3 linked regions of the Homo sapiens genome follow. The protein of the gene in region 2 purifies or fractionates together with the protein of the main gene of each other region. This does not show direct contact. Each region holds a gene or a part of one and is shown on either strand. Other genes may lie near its edges. The genes, in order: FN1, TEAD4 and VASP.

Region 1 (2,854 bases), on a different chromosome or scaffold from region 2:
AGCTGACCCAAAGTAAGACATGTTAGATGGGGGTTATCATACCATGGGGTTTCCCTAAGATAAAACTCCTCCATATTATACTATTCAAATACTTTTAATATCTTAGTCATTTTTATTTCCCTTGCAGGCAATCTCTTTGAACAGAGGTTTATTCAATGAAGGAAAGGTGGAGGGAAGAAGGGAAGAATTACAATGGTTAGAAAAGAGCAACTAAAGATTATTTCTATTATACTTCTGAACGGTAAACTAGCAATTTTAATAAATATTGGGGTCCACTTAAATCTATTAAAGCAGAAAGTGTAAAGCTATCTCCATTAGTGAAGAGATGAAGTGACAAAAACCAATCAGTTTTTGTAGCAACTGATTTAGAAAATCTTGTACTGAAATCAACAATTAGACTTGCACATCATAGATTTTCAAATGTTTGCTGAATTGAAAAAGAATATTCACAGGAATTATTTCCCCCGAAGGTGTCTTATATCAAATAGATGAACTTCAAGTTGTGGAATGTAAATCTTTTATTAAAACAGTTGTCTTTCCACAGTAGTAAAGCTTTGGCACATACAGTATAAAAAATAATCACCCACCATAATTATACCAAATTCCTCTTATCAACTGCATACTAAGTGTTTTCAATACAATTTTTTCCGTATAAAAATACTGGGAAAAATTGATAAATAACAGGTAAGAGAAAGATATTTCTAGGCAATTACTAGGATCATTTGGAAAAAGTGAGTACTGTGGATATTTAAAATATCACAGTAACAAGATCATGCTTGTTCCTACAGTATTGCGGGCCAGACACTTAAGTGAAAGCAGAAGTGTTTGGGTGACTTTCCTACTTAAAATTTTGGTCATATCATTTCAAAACATTTGCATCTTGGTTGGCTGCATATGCTTTCCTATTGATCCCAAACCAAATCTTAGAATCACTTCATTTAAAATACTGAGCGGTATTGAATACTTCGAAGCAGAACAGGCAATGTGCAGCCCTCATTTATGAGAAAACCCTCAGGAAACTCCCAGGGTGATGCTTGGAGAAGCTGTGAGTTGAGCTGAAGCTGGAGAACTTCCTCCAGAGCAAAGGGCTTAAGAAAGAAAGAAGAACTCTAAGCTGGGTCTGCTAACATCACTCCAGTTTAGATGGATCTTGGCAGAGAGACATGCTTGTTCCTCTGGATTGGAAAGATGATTTACTCTCGGGAATCTTCTCTGTCAGCCTGTACATCTAAAGGCATGAAGCACTCAATTGGGCAATTAACATTCTGTTAAAAAGGAAGAAGGAAAAAAAAATTAGTGGCAAATACTGTAAAGTGTACAGAAAAAAAAATGCGGGGAGGTGGGGACTCATGACAGCTGCTTATAGATAGGATAATATTTCTTCCTAGTTTCAAGAACCTAGCAGCATACTGGGCAATAGGAGATGTTCAAGAGTTACATAAATTATAACTTAAACTATATTATGGAATACAGTGTTTCACTTAAGTCATTTATGAGTTGTTTTTTTTTTTAATTAATTAAAACACTTGGTTCATTCTGAAGAAAGATACCTGTAGAAAGAGACTGTCTAGTATGAGGGAACACACTTGTGCTGCTAATGCACTTACAGTGTTTGTTCTCTGATGGTATCTCTGAGAATACTGGTTGTAGGACTGGCCAGTAGTGCCTTCGGGACTGGGTTCACCCCCAGGTCTGCGGCAGTTGTCACAGCGCCAGCCCTGAGAGAGTAGAGGCATGAAGTCAAATGGGGTTTATGATAACCTGAGGACATCGTAATTTAGTGTTTGAGTTAAAGAAAAATGTCACATCATATGCACTGGCAAAATATAAGCAGTTAATCACTAAGCAAGCTTTGATGATGATTTCATGCATTTATAACTCTTAATACATTTTGGCTTATTACCATATCTTATACCTACATCTGTCTCTCTATGTTGTTTCTTTCTCCTGAAATGTCTCTTCTCTTCCTATTCAAACCTTGCCCATCTGCTGAGGCTCATTCCAATCCCAACTTCCTCAACAAGTTCTCTGCACTAGATGATAGAAAAGGTTTTCAAAGAATCCTAGCGATTTTAAAAGGGACTTGAGATCACATGAAGAAACGTTCTCATTTTATAGGTAAGGAAACAGAGACCCAGAGGAGAGGAGTGACTTGCTTAGAGGGAGCAGGGAAGTCACACAGTGGACCACTGGTGGAGTTGGGCCTGCCGCCCAGGAGGTGGGGTGACCTGGCCATGTTCTTTCTAATGCACCACTTTGCCACTCTCTTCCTAAACTTCCCTAGGCAGTGACATGGTAGCCTGTCACCTGGCCGGAGATGGCATGGGAGATGGAAACGGGACCAAGCTGAGCCAGTGAGGCTCCTGCCTGAAGTTTTTACTGGAAATGGGAGGACACACATGTTCTCTTTCACTACTGTTCTTAAGCTGGCAGGGGGTAAAGCAAGCTCATGGAGGTCAGTCATCAATGGCACCATCAGCAGAGACCCCGCTGAAGCACGAAGCCAGTGCATGGGAAGGCACGCGGAGCAAGAGGGAGTCCGGGCGCCATTGCTGGAGCAGCCCCTGAAGCCGGTGGGTCCTGGGACTGTTCCATTGTGTGGGCCATTTTTGCTTGAGTTGGACTTTTTTCTTACAACTAAAATGCAGCCCTAAATAATACAGTCACTTTCTTTTTTATATTAGAATTTAAATATTTTAGACATATTTCTCTGTTTAAGCACATATGCCCCTTAATACCTAACACAATACCAGTGACTACCTCCTTACAGAATCACTGAATCTTGCTTTCATATGAGAAAGTGAACAGTTTCCACTCCTGTCTTAAATGTTTCATTTAGCACTTGAGAATAGAA
Region 2 (3,650 bases):
CCGGGAATTTGTCATAGATTTGGCGGATGTCCACGGCTTCGAGGTAGGGGTCGCTGTAGCTTGGGCTGGACTGGCCAATGTGCACGAACAGGTGCTTGTTGTACTGTGGAGAGAGTGGGTCTGAGGGAGACGGAGCACAGGCCAGACGGTCAGACAGACAACCCTGGCTCTGCGTGCCCACCACGTGACCTGGTGCAAGCCGCTTGGCCTTTCTGGGCCATAGTTTCCCCATGAGTAAAATAGAGATGGTAAAAGTCTACTCCTTTTGTTTTACATCCTGGACTTCTAAGTAAAGGTCTATTTGGTTCATGGGTTCCTCAGCTAAAAAGAAGTCTGAGCCGGGTGCGGCGGCTCACACCGGTAATCCCAGCACTTTGGGAGGCCGAAGTGGGTGGATCACTTGAGGTCAGGAGTTCAAGACCAGCCTGGACAACATGGTGAAACCCAGTCTCTACTAAAAATACAAAAATTAGCCAGGTGTGGTGGCAGGCACCTGTAATCCCAGCTACTCCGGAGGCTAAGGCGGGAGAGTCGCTTGAACTCAGGAAGTGGAAGTTGCAGTAAGCTGAGATCATGCCACTGCACTCCCAGCCTGGGTGACAGAGTGAGGCTCTGTCTCAAGAAAAAAAAAAAAAAAAAGAAGTTTGAAGATGTCAGAGTGAGAAGGGCCCTGGCATCCTGTCACCTTGGCCTCCTCCAGGTCCCCCTCTGACCTTTGCAGGTGACGCTGGTCACCCAGGACACTGGACACCGAAGGGGACAGGCTGGTATCCCATAGGATATGGAGCAGACACAGGAGACTCCTCAGCTTCCTGCCCGCTTCTCAGAACCAGAGAGAGGCTGGGACAGTGTAGGGGTGGGGCTGGGACCAGAGCAACCTTGGACTAAGGGTCGGTTGGGTTAGGAGGGGAGGAGGAACACAGGACAGGGAGGGAGGAGCGTGACGCTGACTGGGCGCTGGGACACGGAAAGGAAGCCAGGGAGGAGGGAAAGAGGGAAGAGGGGTGACGTGAAGGAGGAAAGGAGGAGTGGGGGGAAGGGCAGAAGGGAAGATCGGAAAGGAACAGGGAACTTGAATTAAGCCCCAGCATGGAGTGGGGCAAGACTGCCGGAAGCAGAAACAGAGGGAGAGGGGGTGACCAGGGAGCTGGACAGGCAGAGGCCAGGACCTACCGTGTCCGGGTCCTGCTGCTGCTCCAGGAAGGCAGAGAACTCCAACATCCAGAGCTTGGAGCTGGCCACGCTGCGGCCCTGCCATGGGGGTGCCGGGGGCGCAGAGGGCGATGGGGCGGGCCCTGCAGGAGACTCAAACCCTGCACAAAGTGAGAAAGGCACATGGAACCTGGTCACGGACACCCGCCCTGCCCGCACCCTCTGCAAGGACCCCAGGCCTCCTCGGACAGACCCGTGCTGCCTGGGGGGACCGCCTGTCTCCCTAAATGGACCTCCTAGCAGAGGTGGTGGAGGGAGTGCCAGGCTTGGGCCAGGGCATCCTGGAGCTGCCCTGGTGGGGAGGGGCTCGCCTGGTACAACTCGGGCCACTCAGCACTCTGCATGGAACCGCCGAGCAAGACTGGATTCTGGAGGGCAGCTGGGGCCCTGCAGGACCGAGAGGCTTCCAGAACAGGCACTGTTAAGTTCCTGCCCTCAAGCAACTTCTGTTCCAGTCGGGGAAATAACCAGATGAATCCACTATTACAATATGGCATCATCCCGGAGAGACGGGGACGTTTCCTGTTTGCATCACATGTGTCTCCCCCGCTCCCAGAACAGGGCCTGGCCCAGAAGAGCCCCTCAATCCAGCGTTGCTAACAGATGAACCTACTCCAGTCCTACTGTAGTTTAGATCGTGTCCTGAAGGCACCAGGGGGCCAGGAAGGCACCATAAACCTGGAAGCAACACCGTGAGACTGAAGCTCTGGTGAGTGACAGGGTGACGAGAGGAGGTGAGACGGGACAGCGAGCCGGTGGAGAGGCTGCTGCAGGAACGCAGGCAAAAGCCAGCAGGCCTGGAGTGAAGACATGGTCAGTGTGGACAGAAGACTGGCATGAGACAGAGGGTGGACGGGACCTGACGCTGTGACTTTGTTTTGATGTGTGAACGAGAGAAAGCAGCCTTCAGGACCTGGGGGACAGAAGGCAGCAGGGCTGCTCTTGGTGGCAGGGAAAGCCAAGGGGCCGGGCAGGCAGACTCCACACCAGAAAGGGCAGTTTAAGAGTGAGGAGCTGGTCTTGTCCTACAGAGTGGGAGGTGGTGAGGGCCCCTCCTGAGAAAGAGACGAGGACAGAGCAGAGCCTGTCAGTGAGAGGGCGGGGTGGGGGCTCCTGTCAGCACCGCTGGCTGCCTCCACCAGGTCTTCTCCCACAAGGGTCCCTCTTCTCGGGAGGGGCTCCAGGCTGGTGAGCTAGACACCCCTCGGCCCTCCCAGGACCAGGTGTGTGAGGCACACTGCAGTAACAAGGCCGGCCAAGTGGGGCAGCCGCCAGGGCACGGGCACTGCCCTTGGAACTGCACGTGCCCCACAAGCCCTGAGCACAGCTTTGAGGGGACAGGAGCAAGGCAACCCGAGGGGCATGAAGGGGCTTGGCACACGGCTGAGGTGTGCATGCTGGGGGAAAGGAATGGGGTGTGGCCAGGGACTAGGACGTGTGGTCAGTGTGCATGACGGGGCAGCATCTAACAGGGACACGCAGGCGTTCGGCTGCCGGGGGCCTGGACCCAGAGGCAGGAGCCACATGGCTGCGATAGAAAGGGGGCCACGCAGCGCCCACCCACCTGGCAGAGGCAGCGGAGGCTGGACAGCATAGGTTTGCTGAGAGAAAGGCTTCACACTGCGGGAGAGAGAGGAGGGGAGGTGTCAGCCTCGGGCAGGCCACCGCCCCGGATCCCTGCACTGGGTCCAGTGGTCTGTGTGGTAGGTCCTGGTGGTCTGGATTTCAGTGGTCCCGATGGGCCTTGGCCTCCTACTCCCGCCCCTGCCGACTCCCCTGGGTTTCGTGGCGGGTCCACAGACACAGCGTGTCTGCTGAAGAAATCCACCCCTCCCTCTCCTCCTCCCAGGCCAGCCAGAGGTCTGCTTCCCAGCCTCCTCCCCTGGGGGACCCCAGCTCTGGCCCTGCCTATACCCTGGACAGACTGGAGTTTTGGCAAATACCACCCTAGGGTGTAGACATCACAGATGAGCCCAGTGATGGCTGACAGTAGAAGAGCCCAATCCCTGAGCTCAGAGCCATCCTGAAAGGCCGACCCCAGCAGCGGCCCCAGCACACCCTGGGGCCCAGGCTTAATGCCATGAGTTTATGGGTTCAAGTTCAGTTCAGGGAGCAACTGGCAAGAGAAACCAGAGGCCATACTCACTCATGGGACGTTCCGGCTTGGCCTGGCAAAGCTCCTTGCCAAAACTGAGGAGGCAAAAGGCATGGAATCAGCACGGCCCCAGGTGCACCCGGGGCCCTGTGGTGTGGGGGTGGGGGTAGGACCGGGCAGGGCCTCCACTGGGAGGAGAGGCTGGAGCCCGAGGCCTCGCCTAGCTAGTGAATGCTAACAGGCCACAGCAGCACCCCCAGAGTGAGTTTCAGGGGGCTCTCAGGCCCTGTGGAGGAGGGGCTCCATGGGAAAAGCACCCAGGTGTGGTCCACACAGCACAGGG
Region 3 (3,650 bases), on a different chromosome or scaffold from region 2:
ACAGGAGAAGCTAAGGCCCGGGGAACAGTCACTTGCCCCAGATTTCTCCAGGGTGGAATGTGCAGGAACAAGACTTGAATTCAGGCTGATTCCAGCAGCCAGGCTCTTAACCACTGTTGGTTTGTTTCGAGACAGAGTCTCACTCTGTCACCCAGGCTGGAGTGCAGCAGTGCAATCACGGCTCACCACAGCCTCCACCTCCCGGGTTCAAGAGATTCTCCTGCCTCAGCCTCCTGAGTAGCTGGGATTACAGGCGCCTGCCACCATGCCTGGCTAATTTTTGTATTTTTAATAGAGATGGGATTTCACCATGTTGGCTAGGCTGGTCTCGAACTCCTGACCTCAAGTGATCCACTTGCCTCAGCCTCCCAAAGTGCTGAGATTACAGGCGTGAGCCACCGCACCTGGCCCCTGGCTAGCTCTTAACCACTGTTACAGCCACTTGGACCTTACCTAAGAACCTGGAAAGGTAAAGAGCTTCTTCCTCACCTACCTCCAGGCCTCTGGCCCTAGCACCTGAATTGAATTGGCTACGAATTAACAATGAATTAGCCCCAATTTACAGATGACTCAACTGAAGCCCACTGTATTTTTCTGTGTGCCCCAGAGGAGCAAGCCCCTTCCGCACTAGCACAGAAGTTGTCCCACGAAGCAAACACCCCTGCATTTGGTGACTTTCAGTTCTACAGCAGTGATTCCAGGCCAGATGCACGGCAGTCACCTAAAACCTCACTACTCAGTCACGTCCGCAGACCAGCAGCCTGGGTATCACCAGGGCACTTGTGAGAATGTGGAGTCTCAGTCCGCCCAGCCCACCTGCACCAGAGCCTGCACTTTAACCAGATCCCCAGGTGATTCATGTGCACGTTAAGGTTTAAGAAATAGCAACTGGGCTGGGCGCGTGACTCGCGCCTGTAATCTCAGCACTCTGGGAGGCCGAGGCGAGTGGATCACCTGAGGTCAGGAGTTCGAGACCAGCCTGGCCAACACTGCGAAACCCCGTCTCTACTAAAACTACAAAAATTAGACAGGCATGTTGGTGCACACCTATAGTTCCATCTACTCAGGAGGCTGAGGCAGAATTGCTTAAACTCAGGAGGCGGAGGTTGCAGTGAACTGAGATCACACCACTGCACTCCAGCCTGAGAGACAGAGTGAGACTCCATATTAAAAAAAAAAAAAAAAAAAAAAAAAAAAGGCCGGGCGCAGTGGCTCACGCCTGTAATCCCAGCACTTTCGGAGGCCGAGGCGGGCGGATCACGAGGTCAGGAGATCGAGACCATCCTGGCTAACACGGTGAAATCCCGTCTCTACTAAAAATACAAAAAATTAGCTGGATGTGGTGGCGGGTGCCTGTAGTCCCAGCTACTCGGGAGGCTGAGGCAGGAGAATGGCATTTACCCGGGAGGCAGAGCTTGCAGCGAGCGGAGATCGCGCCACTGCACTCCAACCTGGGGACAGAGCGAGACTCCGTCTCCAAAAAAAAAAAAAAAAAGCAACTGGGCTGGGTGTAGTGGCTCATGCCTGTAATCCCAGCACTTTAGGAGGCTGAAGTGGGAGGATCACTTGAGCCCAGGAGTTCAAGACCAGCCTGTAGACCATCTCCACAAAAAGTAAAAAAAAAAAAAAAATTTGAAATGATCCAGGTGGCCAGACATGGTGGCTCACACTTATAATCCCAGCACTTTGGGAGGCAGAGGCAGGTGGATCACTTGAGGCCAGGAGTTTGAAACCAGCCTGGCCAATATGGTGAAACCCCTTCTCTACTAAAATACAAGGGCCGGGCATGGTGTCTCATGCCTGTAATCCCAGCACTCTGGGAGGCCTAGGCGGGCGGATCACAAGGTCAGGAGATAGAGACCATCCTGGCTAACACGGTGAAACCTTGTCTCTACTAAAGATACAAAAAATTACCCGGGTGTGGTGGCTCACGCCTATAGTCCCAGCTACTCGGGAGGCTAGGGCAGGAGAATCGCTTGAACCCGGGAGGCGGAGGTTGCAGTGAGGCAATATCGTGCCACTGCACTCCAGCCTGGGCAACAGAGTGAGACTCTGTCTCAAAAAAATAAAAATAAAAACAAAATACAAAAAAATAGCTTGGGCATGGTGGCACATGCCTGTAATCCCAGCTACTCAGGAGGCTGAGGCACGAGAATCACGCGAACCCGGGAGGTGGAGGTTGCAGTGAGCTGAGGTTGCACCACTGCACTCCAGCCTGGGTGACAGAGCAAGACTCTGTCTCAAAAAACAAAACAAAAAAAGAGCCAAGTATGGTGGTGCACACCTGTATTCCCAGCTACTTAGGAGGCTGAGGCAAGAGGATCACTTGAGCCCAGGAGGTGAAGGCTGCAGAGAGCCATGATTGTGCCAGTGCACACCAGCCTGGGCAACAGAGCGAGATCCTGTTTCTGGGGCAGGACCTACCTATGTCTTGATCTGGGAGGTGGTTTCCCGGGAGTGTGCCTGTGTAAAGTTCATGGAGTACTGATCCCTGAGTAATCGTGCATTTTTTTTGTGTTTGTTTTCTTTCTGAGACGGAATCTTGCTCTGTCGCCAGGCTGAAGTGCAGTGGCCTGATCTCGGCTCACTGCAACCTCTATCTCCTGGGTTCAAACACTTCTCGTCCCTCAGCATCCCGAATAGCTGGGATTACAGGCGCGCACCACCACGCCCAGCTAATTTTTGAATTTTAATAGAGACGCAATTTCACCATGTTGGGCACGGTGAAACTCCTGACCTCAGGTAATCCGTGTGCCTCGGCCTCCCAAAGTGCTGAGATTACAGGCATGAGCCACGGCGCCGGGCCAATGGTGCATTTTACACATAGGTGCACACGGTCACACTGGAATGCACAAAATGCTAGTGATAATTTTCCATGATAACAATGAATTCGCTCTATTTTACCGACGAGTAAACCAAGTCCCAGCAGGGTAAAGCGGCAGCCCCAGGCCACACAGCCGCATTCACTGGTCCCCTTTGCCCGCCGCCATTTCTGACCTTCCAACGCCTCTAGGGCACTGGCCATGCCGGCGGCAAACTGGGCCGCATCCTCCTTGCTGCCGAAGTTGAGGCCCCAGACCTGGCGAGCGTCGCGCCACTGATGGAAGTTGGGGGTGGCCTGGTTATACTTGACACCCCGGACGATGGCACAGTTGATGACCACCTGGTGGGAGGGGAAAGGGGGGTGAGGGGCGGCGGGCGCAGGGGTGGGGCGGGTAGGGGTTCAGCCCACAGAGGGGGCCGGCGGGAAGCTGCACCTGCTGGTCGGGCTGCATCTTCCGGCCCACGACGCGAAAGGAATTGGCCGTGGGGTTGTGGTAGATCTGGACGCGGCTGAAGGCCTGGGGACCCGTGCCAGCAGGGAGCCATCGCTTGTTGCCATCATCATAAAGCATCACAGTGGCCCGGCTGGAACAGATGACCGTCTCGCTGCAGGCGGGAGGAAAAGGGAGAGGGGCCGGTCACCTTCTTATCTGGGTCTCTCCTGGGAGATTCCAAGGGACAAAGACAGTGTGTGGAAGGAAGAGAGTGACACAGAGGGAGGCAGGAGCCACGTGGACAGAAGGAGACGGGGGAGACAGATCAGGAGAGAAAATCAGATCAGGAGAGACAGGCAAACACACAAACGAGATGCAAGAGACAGACGCAGA

Evidence for each region.
Region 1: the proteins of TEAD4 (region 2) and FN1 purify together in Homo sapiens (affinity purification with mass spectrometry; 3 studies listed by BioGRID and IntAct, with this or other methods). This does not show direct contact.
Region 3: the proteins of TEAD4 (region 2) and VASP purify together in Homo sapiens (affinity purification with mass spectrometry; 3 studies listed by BioGRID and IntAct, with this or other methods). This does not show direct contact.

The regions. Positions count from the first base shown.
Region 1 is NC_000002.12:215,360,362-215,363,215, forward strand, and holds the end of FN1 (fibronectin isoform 1 precursor), read right to left. Parts: exon of another isoform or gene 2,292-2,854; coding exon of another isoform or gene 2,285-2,291; intron 1,719-2,284; coding exon 1,608-1,718; intron 1,266-1,607; coding exon 1,194-1,265; 3' UTR 504-1,193; downstream 1-503. Other genes in the region: bifunctional purine biosynthesis protein ATIC, read left to right, coding at 2,285-2,291. UniProt on the Homo sapiens protein: Fibronectins bind cell surfaces and various compounds including collagen, fibrin, heparin, DNA, and actin. Fibronectins are involved in cell adhesion, cell motility, opsonization, wound healing, and maintenance of cell shape.
Region 2 is NC_000012.12:3,018,297-3,021,946, reverse strand, and holds part of TEAD4 (transcriptional enhancer factor TEF-3), read right to left. Parts: intron 3,403-3,650; coding exon 3,359-3,402; intron 2,833-3,358; coding exon 2,777-2,832; intron 1,314-2,776; coding exon 1,174-1,313; intron 104-1,173; coding exon 1-103. UniProt on the Homo sapiens protein: Transcription factor which plays a key role in the Hippo signaling pathway, a pathway involved in organ size control and tumor suppression by restricting proliferation and promoting apoptosis.
Region 3 is NC_000019.10:45,517,442-45,521,091, reverse strand, and holds part of VASP (vasodilator-stimulated phosphoprotein), read right to left. Parts: intron 3,430-3,650; coding exon 3,258-3,429; intron 3,164-3,257; coding exon 2,998-3,163; intron 143-2,997; exon of another isoform or gene 1-142. UniProt on the Homo sapiens protein: Ena/VASP proteins are actin-associated proteins involved in a range of processes dependent on cytoskeleton remodeling and cell polarity such as axon guidance, lamellipodial and filopodial dynamics, platelet activation and cell migration.